Linked DNA regions of Homo sapiens: all the other regions are linked to region 4. Evidence: fine-mapped expression QTL. A gene starts in region 4. Each other region holds a variant in brackets. All regions are shown on one strand. Distances are between the middles of the regions. Region 1 overlaps STEAP2-AS1 (STEAP2 antisense RNA 1). Region 2 has its middle 390 kb from the start of STEAP1. Region 3 overlaps STEAP2 (STEAP2 metalloreductase). Region 4 holds the start of STEAP2 (STEAP2 metalloreductase).

The links. PIP is the estimated chance that this variant, and not a neighbour inherited with it, causes the effect.
Region 1: its variant is the best candidate, but not a certain one, in a credible set for the expression of STEAP2 in stomach (GTEx, PIP 0.56).
Region 2: its variant is the best candidate, but not a certain one, in a credible set for the expression of STEAP2 in putamen (GTEx, PIP 0.64).
Region 3: its variant is the best candidate, but not a certain one, in a credible set for the expression of STEAP2 in cerebellum (GTEx, PIP 0.82).

Annotation. Positions count from the first base shown.
Region 1 is chr7:90,185,486-90,188,176 of GRCh38, forward strand. The region is part of intron 2 of STEAP2-AS1 (STEAP2 antisense RNA 1); the gene reads right to left. Among named protein-coding and RNA genes, the nearest start is that of STEAP2-AS1, 25 kb to the right of the region's middle. The variant A/G (reference allele first, on the strand shown) is at 1,535.
Region 2 is chr7:89,764,239-89,766,929 of GRCh38, forward strand. No RefSeq gene overlaps it. Among named protein-coding and RNA genes, the nearest start is that of STEAP1, 390 kb to the right of the region's middle. The variant G/A (reference allele first, on the strand shown) is at 1,188.
Region 3 is chr7:90,236,608-90,239,298 of GRCh38, forward strand. It overlaps STEAP2 (STEAP2 metalloreductase), which reads left to right. Exons shown (of 6, transcript NM_001244944.2): 6 at 1-1,076. LOC107986819 (a long non-coding RNA gene) reads right to left here. Exons shown (of 2, transcript XR_007060423.1): 2 at 980-2,691. Among named protein-coding and RNA genes, the nearest start is that of CFAP69, 7.2 kb to the right of the region's middle. The variant C/G (reference allele first, on the strand shown) is at 1,448.
Region 4 is chr7:90,210,153-90,212,843 of GRCh38, forward strand. It overlaps STEAP2 (STEAP2 metalloreductase), which reads left to right and starts at 1,588. Exons shown (of 6, transcript NM_001244944.2): 1 at 1,588-1,893. It overlaps STEAP2-AS1 (STEAP2 antisense RNA 1), which reads right to left and starts at 1,483. Exons shown (of 3, transcript NR_110029.2): 1 at 1,148-1,483. RefSeq lists a silencer at 1,691-1,750.

The sequences.
Region 1 (2,691 bases), 25 kb before region 4:
CTCAGAAATAATACCACACATCTACAACCATCTGATCTTTGACAAACCTGATAAAAACAAGAAATGGGGAAAGGATTCCCTATTTAATAAATGGTGCTAGGGAAACTGGCTAGCCATATGTAGAAAGCTGAAACTGGATCCCTTCTTTACACCTTGTAGAAAAATTAATTCAAGATGGATTAAAGACTTAAATGTTAATCCTAAAACCATAAAAACCCTAGAAGAAAACCTAGGCATTACCATTCAGGACATAGGCATGGGCAAGGACTTCATGTCTAAAACACCAAAGCAATGGCAACAAAAGCCAAAATTGACAAATGGGATCTAATTAAACTAAAGAGCTTCCGCACAGCAAAAGAAACTACCATCAGAGTGAACAGGCAACCTACAGAATGGGAGAAAATTTTTGCCATCTACTCATTTGACAAAGGGCTAATATCCAGAATCTACAAAGAACTCAAACAAATTTACAAGAAAAAAACAACCCCATCAAAAAGTGGTCAAAGGATATCAACAGACACTTCTCAAAAAAAGACATTTATGCAGCCAACAGACACATGAAAAAATGCTCATCATCACTGGCCATCAGAGAAATGCAAATCAAAACCACAATGAGGTACCATCTCACATCAGTTAGAATGTGGATCACTAAAAAGTCAGGAAACAACAAGTGCTGGAGATGATGTGGAGAAATAGGAACACTTTTACACTGTTGGTGGGACTGTAAACTAGTTCAACCATTGTGGAAGACAGTGTGGCAATTCCTCAAGGATCTAGAACTAGAAATACCATTTGACCCAGCTATCCCATTACTGGGTATATACCCAAAGGATTATAAATCATGCTGCTATAAAGACACATGCACATGTATGTTCATTGCGACACTATTCACAATAGCAAAGACTTGGAACCAACCCAAATATCCATCGATGATAGACTGGATTAAGAAAATGTGGCATATATACACCATGGAATACTATGCAGCCATAAAAAAGGATGAGTTCATATCCTTTGTAGGGACATGGATGCTTCATCCTACTCTTCACCAGTTAGAGTAGTTCCCTTAAGTACATAAGCAAACAGCTACTTGCATCACAAATTATTGTAATTGTAACAAAGTAATCTACATTCCTAATGACGCTGCATCATGAAGAAAACATAAAATTAAATAGCACGCAATCTATTTAAGAGATCTTAAAGAAATAATAATCATGAATAATTTTTAAAAACTATTGGACAATTATCTAAATAATTCCATAATTATTCTGAATAAATGATAAGCTGTGATCATCCTAATTAGCTTGGGAAAGGTTTTATATTAGAATAACATTCAAAAGCTGAAAAAATATGAAAAATTAAGGTAATAATAAAGTAACATAAAATAAATTAAAAGTTGCAATTACATTAAAAATCACTGTGGCCATAATTATGACCTGTAGACACATCTGGAATACAAGAACACAGGCACAGAAGTCACTTAACAAATTTTTCTTTTTATGAGTGATCAGCAATGAGTATTTTAACAGGTTTTAAC[A/G]CTACATTCAAACATTATCACACTTAAAAAGAGGGCTTATTATTGTATCAAAATATCTTTTTGGCAAAAAGTTAAAGCATAAGTTGAAATGTGATGAGTACAAAATGATTAGGGGGTATAATAAAATCATTATTCATCTTAATGCTTCATTCCAGCTAGCAATCCAAGTTAGCAAAAGTCACAGGAAAAACAAGGATTTTAAAAGTTGAGTATAAGATGAGAAATACTAACAACTATTTTTGGCACCTGTTTAATGCTTTGTGGCTCTATACATTTCTTAACTTTTCCTGCTTAGACTCTCTCTTTCAGTGAGTCTTTATTCTAGTATTCATCCTTTCCCAATCCAGTCTATGTGCTCTGAAGGAAAATTACCTCTTCCCTAGCCATAGGGGTGGACTCTGGATCAAACCATATCTGAAGCTTCCTCATCACTGGATCTTTCAATTATGAAACTAATACACTTCTTTTACTGGTCAAGTCATTTGGAATTAAATTTTATTTCATTAGAAAATTAAATTATATCATATATAATGTGTATGAAATATGTATACACAATTAAAATAATAATAATAAAATGAACACTCATGTACCAGACACCCAGCTTAAGAAATAAAACAGTGTTCAGAGCTCCCCTAAGTGCCCTGCCTTATTATAACTGGCTTCCCATCCCAACCCTGAGAGGTACACACCATCCTGAACTTTTGGTTTATGATATATAACAAATATCTTTTCACAATGTGACTAACCTTTTTCAGTTCCTCTATGGTTTCCATTCATTATAGAGAGTTTTTAATTTTAATGTCAAATGGATACATTTTTTCCTCTGCTAGTTCATATTACTGTATGTGTCTTATTTAATAGACCTATCCTGGCTAGGTACAGTGGCTCATGCCTGTAATCCCAGCACTATGAGAGGCCCAAGTGAGAGGATCACTTGAGCCCAGGAGTTCCAGGCTGCAGGAAGCCATGATTGTGCCATTTGAAAATATTATAGATAGATAGATGATAGATAGATAGATAGATAGATAGATAGATAGATAGAGATAGATAAATAGATATTTTTCTATGTTTTCAAGTTTTCCTTTTCATAATAAGTATTTTATTTTATTAGAATTGATTTTTGTGGGGTAAAGTACAATTTCACATTTTTCATAAAA
Region 2 (2,691 bases), 450 kb before region 4:
AATTTCAACAACATTGAAGGACATGAGGTCAGTTCTCAAAAATCAATTGTATTTTGATGCACTGTCAATAAACAATCTAAAAATGAAATCAATAAACAATCGCACTTACAATAGCATCAAAAATAACAGAATTCTTAGAAATAAGTAATCGAGGAAGTGTAAGACTCGGACATTGAAAATGATAAAGCATTGAAAAAACTTTTTAAAAATTAACAATCATTTATTAGTGTTTGTGAATTGGAAGACTTAATATTGTTACGATACTAATAATCCCCAAATTGATCTACAGATTCAATGTAATTTTTATCAAAATCACTGCAACCTCTGCCTCCTAGGTTCAAGCTATTCTACTTCCTCAGCCTCCTGAGTAGCTGGGACTACAAACCACCCAGCTAATTTTTGTATTTTTAGTAGAGACGGGGTTTCACCATGTTGGCCAGGACGGTCTCAATCTCTTGACTTCATGATCCACCCGCCTTGGCCTCCCAAAGTGCTGGGATTACAGGCGTGAGCCACCACACCTGGCCGAAAGCTGATTCTAAAATTCATATGGAGTTAGAAAAATCCAGAATAGGGAAAACAATTTGAAAAAAAAAGGGACAAATTTGGAGAACTCACCCTTCCCAATTTTGTTACCTACCTACAAAACTACAACAATCAAAACAATATGGTATTGACATAAAGACAGAAATAGAGATTAATGGAATGGAATTGAGAGTACAAAAATAAATCCTTATGTTTATGATTGATTTTTGACAAGGGTGCCAAGACAATTCAACAGAGAAAGAAGAGTCTTTTTAACACATGGTGCTGGGACAAATGGATATTGATATATAAAAGAATAAAATTGGAAAAGCTCCCTCACACCATAAACAAAAATGAACTCAAAGTAGATTGCAGACTTACATGCAACTTCTAAAACTGTAAAACTCACAAATGAAAATAGGTAAATCTTCATGACCTTGATTTGTCAACAATTTCTTAGACATAACACCAAAATCACAAGCAACAAAAGAAAAAAAAAGTGAATTGTGCTTCAATAAAATTAAAATATTTTGTGATTCAAACATCACTATCAAGAAAGTGAAAAGACAGCCCATATAAGGGAATAGATATTTGTAAAGTACATATCTGGTAAGGAACTAGTACCCAGGATATATTAACAACTCTTACATCTCAACAATAAA[G/A]ACAAATAACTCAAACAAAATGGGATTTGAATAGAGATTTTTTTGAAAAGGATTTGAATAGAGGTTTTCCCAAAGAAAATATGCAAATGACCAATAAGCACCTGAAAAGATGCTTTAACATCATTAGTCATTAGGGAAATGCAAATAAAAATCACAACGAGGTATTAACCACTTATCAGATACATGGTTTGTAAATATTTTTTTCCATTGCTTTTTCACTGTATTGTTTCCTTTGCTGTGCAAAAGCATTTAAGTTTGATATAATCCCACTTCCTTATTTTTGCTTTTATTGCCTGTGCTTTTGGTATAGACCCAAGAAATTATTGCCAAGACAGTGTCAAGAGGATTTTCCCCTATGTTTTCTATTAGCGGTTTTATAATTTCAGGTCTTATATTCAAATCTTTATTTTAAGTTTTTTTTTGTATAATGTAAGATAAGGATCAAATTTTACTCTTTTGTAGGTGGATATTCAGTTTTTCTAATACCATTTGTTGAAAAAAACAATCCTATCCCAATTGTGTATTCTTAGCACATTTGTTGCAGAATAGTTGGCTATGTATGTGTGGGTCTATTTCTGAACTAGCTATTCTGTTCTATTTGTCTACATATTGCCTTTATGCCAGTACCATACTGTTTTCATTACAGTGGTTTCATAATATATTTTGCAAACCATATTTCTGAAAAGGGGTTAATATCCAAAATACATAAAACTCTCATAGCTCAATAGCACAAAACAAATAAACTGATTAATAAATGGACAAAGAACTTGGATAGACATTTCTCCAAAGAAGACATACAAATGGCCAACAGGTATATGAAAAGGTAATCAACATCACCAATCAATTTTCAGAGAATTGCAAATTAAAGCCATAATGACATACTACCCCATACTTGTTATTATGACTATTTTTTTAAGAAAAAAGTAAGTGTTGGTGAGGATGTTGTGAAATTGGCCCCTTGCACATTGCTGGTGGTAGTGTAAAATAGAGCAGCCAATATGGAAAATTGTATGGATGTTTTTCAAAAAATTCAAACCAGATATACCATATAATCCAGCAATTTCACTTCTAGATATAAATTAAAAATAATTGAAATCAGAATCTTGAAAAGATATCTGCACTCCCATATTTATTACATCATCATTCGCAATAGCCAAAATATCAAAACAATGTAAAACATCCACTGACAGGTAAGTAAAGAAAATGTGATATAAACATACAATAGAGTATTATTCAGCCTTAAAAAAATAAGGAAATCCTGTCATATGGAACAACTTGATGAACCTACAGGACATTATACTAAGTGAAGTAAGCCTTTCACAAAGGACAAATACAGGTATATCTCATTTTATTTGTGCTTCACTTTTTTTCATTTCACAAATATTGCATTTTTTTTTTTTTTTTTTTTTTTTTTTACAAATTGAAGGTTTGTTGCAACCCTACTTCAAGCAAATCTGTTAGCTCCATTTCTCCAAATATATGCTCATTTCATACCTCTAGGTCA
Region 3 (2,691 bases), 26 kb after region 4:
GTTCTTCACTTTTTTTTTAGTATGAGAAAATTATACAGTGCTTAATTTTCAGAGATTCTTTCCATATGTTACTAAAAAATGTTTTGTTCAGCCTAACATACTGAGTTTTTTTTAACTTTCTAAATTATTGAATTTCCATCATGCATTCATCCAAAATTAAGGCAGACTGTTTGGATTCTTCCAGTGGCCAGATGAGCTAAATTAAATCACAAAAGCAGATGCTTTTGTATGATCTCCAAATTGCCAACTTTAAGGAAATATTCTCTTGAAATTGTCTTTAAAGATCTTTTGCAGCTTTGCAGATACCCAGACTGAGCTGGAACTGGAATTTGTCTTCCTATTGACTCTACTTCTTTAAAAGCGGCTGCCCATTACATTCCTCAGCTGTCCTTGCAGTTAGGTGTACATGTGACTGAGTGTTGGCCAGTGAGATGAAGTCTCCTCAAAGGAAGGCAGCATGTGTCCTTTTTCATCCCTTCATCTTGCTGCTGGGATTGTGGATATAACAGGAGCCCTGGCAGCTGTCTCCAGAGGATCAAAGCCACACCCAAAGAGTAAGGCAGATTAGAGACCAGAAAGACCTTGACTACTTCCCTACTTCCACTGCTTTTTCCTGCATTTAAGCCATTGTAAATCTGGGTGTGTTACATGAAGTGAAAATTAATTCTTTCTGCCCTTCAGTTCTTTATCCTGATACCATTTAACACTGTCTGAATTAACTAGACTGCAATAATTCTTTCTTTTGAAAGCTTTTAAAGGATAATGTGCAATTCACATTAAAATTGATTTTCCATTGTCAATTAGTTATACTCATTTTCCTGCCTTGATCTTTCATTAGATATTTTGTATCTGCTTGGAATATATTATCTTCTTTTTAACTGTGTAATTGGTAATTACTAAAACTCTGTAATCTCCAAAATATTGCTATCAAATTACACACCATGTTTTCTATCATTCTCATAGATCTGCCTTATAAACATTTAAATAAAAAGTACTATTTAATGATTTAACTTCTGTTTTGAAATGTTGTATACACGTGGATTTTTTTCTCATTAAATAATAATTCTAGTATTTGATGGAGGCCTTCTAATACTTTTCTGAGTTATTTCTTTTCAGAAGCATCCAGAAAGCAATACATGTGATAGTTATGGAGGGGTTTTGTTTGTTTTTACTAAAATAGTCATTTAGAAAAACCTCCATTTACATTTATTTTATTACATTATTTCATTTTACTAGCATTCATTAAGCATCTTTAAATCAGAACACACACAATATTCAAGCTATTCTGTAAACTCCCCGTAGCAGAAATTTTGTCTTATTTACTACTAAATCCCCAGTATCTAGTATAATGTGATCTATGATGGATACTAAAGAGATATTATAATAAATAATTACCCATTTTTACAGAAAATTATGTTTTTTATCATCCCGCATCCATGCAGCCATG[C/G]CTACATCCTCTTGCCTCTTCCTCATGCCTTGCCTCCTGGCCAGTGGCCTAGCGCTACCCTGTTGTCCTAAAGAGTTTCTGCTGCTGCTGCCACTACCACCACCACCACACTGCTATATGTTGAGGAGTCCTGTACACTGTGCCACTGACAAGGAGTAACTGACCTTTGTGCCTGTGCACCAGATCTGTCTGTGGAGGTTCTGGCTTCCCCAGCTGCTGCCTGGAAATGCTTAGGTGCTAATATCCTGAGAGGAGGATTGTCAGGTAAAATACAGGACTCTCAGTTAAATTTGAATTGCAGACAAACAATAAATTACTTTTTATTATAAGCATGGGCTTTTTAAAATTTTTCTAAATCTGGCAACCCTACTTAAGGAGTGAACTTTGATCAAGGAGGTACAGCACAAAATGAAGCTAGTAGATAAATTCTCCCTTCCTTTCCCCCAGATAGGCTGTTCTAAAGTGCAATAATTCATAAGACCTTCATGAAAATATCCTCAAAGACCGAGCAATTAACTGCACTTGTTGCAAAGCTATGACAAGCTCACTAACACCTGTGTTTGTGTTCCCTTCTCCTACTGCCTCACTTCCATGTTTTTCCTCACTTCTGTTTCTCAGAGATAGTACTCCCCATAGAGTGGCAGCAGGTGAGTGTTGGTGTTGTTTGTTTATGGCAGGCTTGGGGAACCTAGACTAGTACAGTACTTTTGGTAGTGGATTCTTCTAATGGGAAGTGAAACAAGAGACAAATGATGACTTTGAGAAAGTCAGGCACGGGACCCTGCAGACTCAAAATCCAGATTTGTTGAGACCCCTGAGAGTAGAAAAACCCCTCAGGGGCAGATTCACATTGATCAAATGTACAGTCATACACTGTTAAATCAAAATAGTAACTCAGCACTACTGTGTGAAATATCAGTGTCCTGTAGGCGAGAATACCATTTGTGCCTTGATTAAACATACTTTATTCTTGAATCTGCTGTTTATAAGAATTGAAGTTATAATTCAAAAGATACTGGGATCTGTTATGGGCTGAACTGTGTTTCCTCAAAATTGATACATTGAAATCCTAACTCCCACACTACCTCAGAATGTATTTGGAGATAGGATCTTTAAAGAGGTAAAGTGAGGTCATACAGTTGGGCCCTAATCCAGTATGACTGGTGTCCTCATAAGAAGAGGAGATTAGGAATCAGGCATGCACAGAGGGAAGACCACGTGAAGTAAAAGGGAGAAGACGGCAT
Region 4 (2,691 bases):
TTACTTTATCTATTTTCTCAATAGTCAAAGCCCATGTTAAGAGAGCTTTTAAACATATTTAAAATATATGGCTTACCTACATGTTTTACATGATAATTTATGGTTATAGAAGTTAGAAAGTGCAATTTCTTTTAATATCCCCGTGGGGAAGTTATATAATTCTATAGTTTTTTAAAATATATGGAAAAGCAATATACTTTCCGTTAACTGCTAAGATTCATGAATTTTCTCCACAAGTTCTCCAGAGGAACTACTAGAAAAAACTCCACGAATCTCATTATTTGACAGTTTTGTTGAAGTGAAATTATTAAAATTGATATTAGATTTAATGACTTGTTTCCAGTAACCAAAATGGAAAGTATTCTACCAGCTGTCGATGGTTCCACACCCTGACACATCGTTAAAACCTTAGCTTCTGCCTAAACTTTAAACCTTAATAATATTTGGCGGTAGGGGAGGGGTTACATTTCAAGTCAAACAAAGGATGTATTTCCAAAGCAGCATTTACAAAGGTTAATCTGTGTATGGACTACAAAGGGGAAAGTGCAGTGCCCCAGTGATCGATCTAAGACCCCCCTCTCGTTGTTGTTGTTGTTGGGTTTTTTTGGTCTGGTTAATAAACCACCTAGAGGGATAATTTTTAAACTTAATTTGTTGAAATGGTACTTTACTAATGTATGAAAAAAATTTCCCCAAATTTGAGAATTTTTGGTAAGTTGATTTTATATTTGGGAATAAAGATCTCTTGCTTCTTCTACTGACACCTTCTACACAAAAGATAAAAGGTACTTTTACTTGGTAATCCGCAGGGAGAAAATTTACAGAAACCCAGAGCCAAAGGTGCTCTCAGGGGATCCCCTGAAACATTCAAAGCCATTGCGGCCCCAGAAGGTAAATGGCTTTCGCAGGAACACAGGTCTCCTGACTCACGGCCTAACCTTCCTTTCCCCCACACCAAAGCTCGCGCGGCACCAGCTAGAGTGAAGGTCAAAGTCAACAGAATAATCTCTGCAGTCCAGGGTCTGTGAGGGTCCTCCTATCCGAGGGAGTTTTCATGAAAGGGCATTTCCGAACATTTTATTCCAAGGACACAGTCTAGTCAAAAGACGTTTGGGATAGGGTAAACATGAGGCAAAAGAACACTTACAAAAGAAAAAAGCGCAGTTTCTTGGAGGCTTGTCAGAAGCTAAGACTGGGGAGATGAGAACCAGGGCCCTTGGCGAGAGTTGGGGTGGGAATCGCGTAAGAAAAGCAATTTCTAGAGCGGAAAGGTGACCCCACATTACAAAAAGAAATGGAGTAGAAAAATAGGCTTGACTATTCTAAAGCTGCTTCAGAAAGAATCTCCGGAAGACCACGGAGGAACCCCGCAGGGGAGCCAGGCGGATACTCAGCCGCTCGCGGTAGAAGGGCGCGCAAAGCTGCGGAGCCGCGTGTGTGGAGCTCCCCAGTGCACTCACTGCTGGCTCCCCCTCGGTGCTCTGGGCCCTTCCCAGCTCCCTCCACACAGCCCGGCTCCCTTCACACACCCCCGCCCCCTCCGAGCTCCCCGACTCCTCCCCGCGCTCCACGGCTCTTCCCGACTCCAGTCAGCGTTCCTCGGGCCCTCGGCGCCACGAGCTGTCCGGGCACGCAGCCCCTAGCGGCGCGTCGCTGCCAAGCCGGCCTCCGCGCGCCTCCCTCCTTCCTTCTCCCCTGGCTGTTCGCGATCCAGCTTGGGTAGGCGGGGAAGCAGCTGGAGTGCGACCGCCGCGGCAGCCACCCTGCAACCGCCAGTCGGAGGTGCAGTCCGTAGGCCCTGGCCCCCGGGTGGGCCCTTGGGGAGTCGGCGCCGCTCCCGGGGAGCTGCAAGGCTCGCCCCTGCCCGGCGTGGAGGGCGCGGGGGGCGCGGAGGTGAGCGGGTCGGGGAGGAGCGCGAAAGAAGGTAGCGGCGGCGGAGTTGAGGGTCAAGATGCAGTCTGCGCCACGCGCTGCATCCATCCTCCCCGATTCTGCGCCCTCACCGGGCGTCCGCCCTGAGCTGCGGGGTCCCTCATCTCCTGGCACCTTAAGGTGGAAAGTGAGAAGGGTGGAGAAGGGTGTCTGTTCCACTGATTCCCCCTCCTCCTCCTCTTGGTTCCTAGAGCTAAGGGCAAGTCCTGAGGTTGGGCCCAGGAGAAAGAAGGCAAGGAGACATTGTCCCAGGTAGGATGTGTCCCAGCAGGAAAGGACAGGCAGGTTACTTTCGCCCCCTTGATAGTCTCCCTGCTACTTTGGGTTGATGCAGGGCATTTCATGGAAGATCATGCAGTGCTGCTTTGCGAACAGGTATTTCTAGCAGTCATTTGGTTTATTTCCCAGTAATGTAATCGTGGTGTTTAGGCCATTTCTGTTAGAAAGTAATTGGCCTCTTCTTTGACTGTCCTAAATTATCTTTGAACCCTGTGTTCAGCCTCAGCCAAAACTTGTTGAAAATTATGCCCTAAAAATCTTGCTCTTAAAATAGAGCAGAGAGATAAAGAGCATTTTTGTTGGAAGATTTCCATTTATTATCTCTCCCACCCCGTGGAGAAGGATTGGTGTCAGTTTTTACTCCTCGGGCAGTTAGTTTTTTAGATGGAAAGACAGTCCAGGCCATAGTTAATTATCGCTCATCAGTATAGGAGAAAAAGAATTCAGACTCCTGCCCCACCCCCACCCCCACCCCCAACC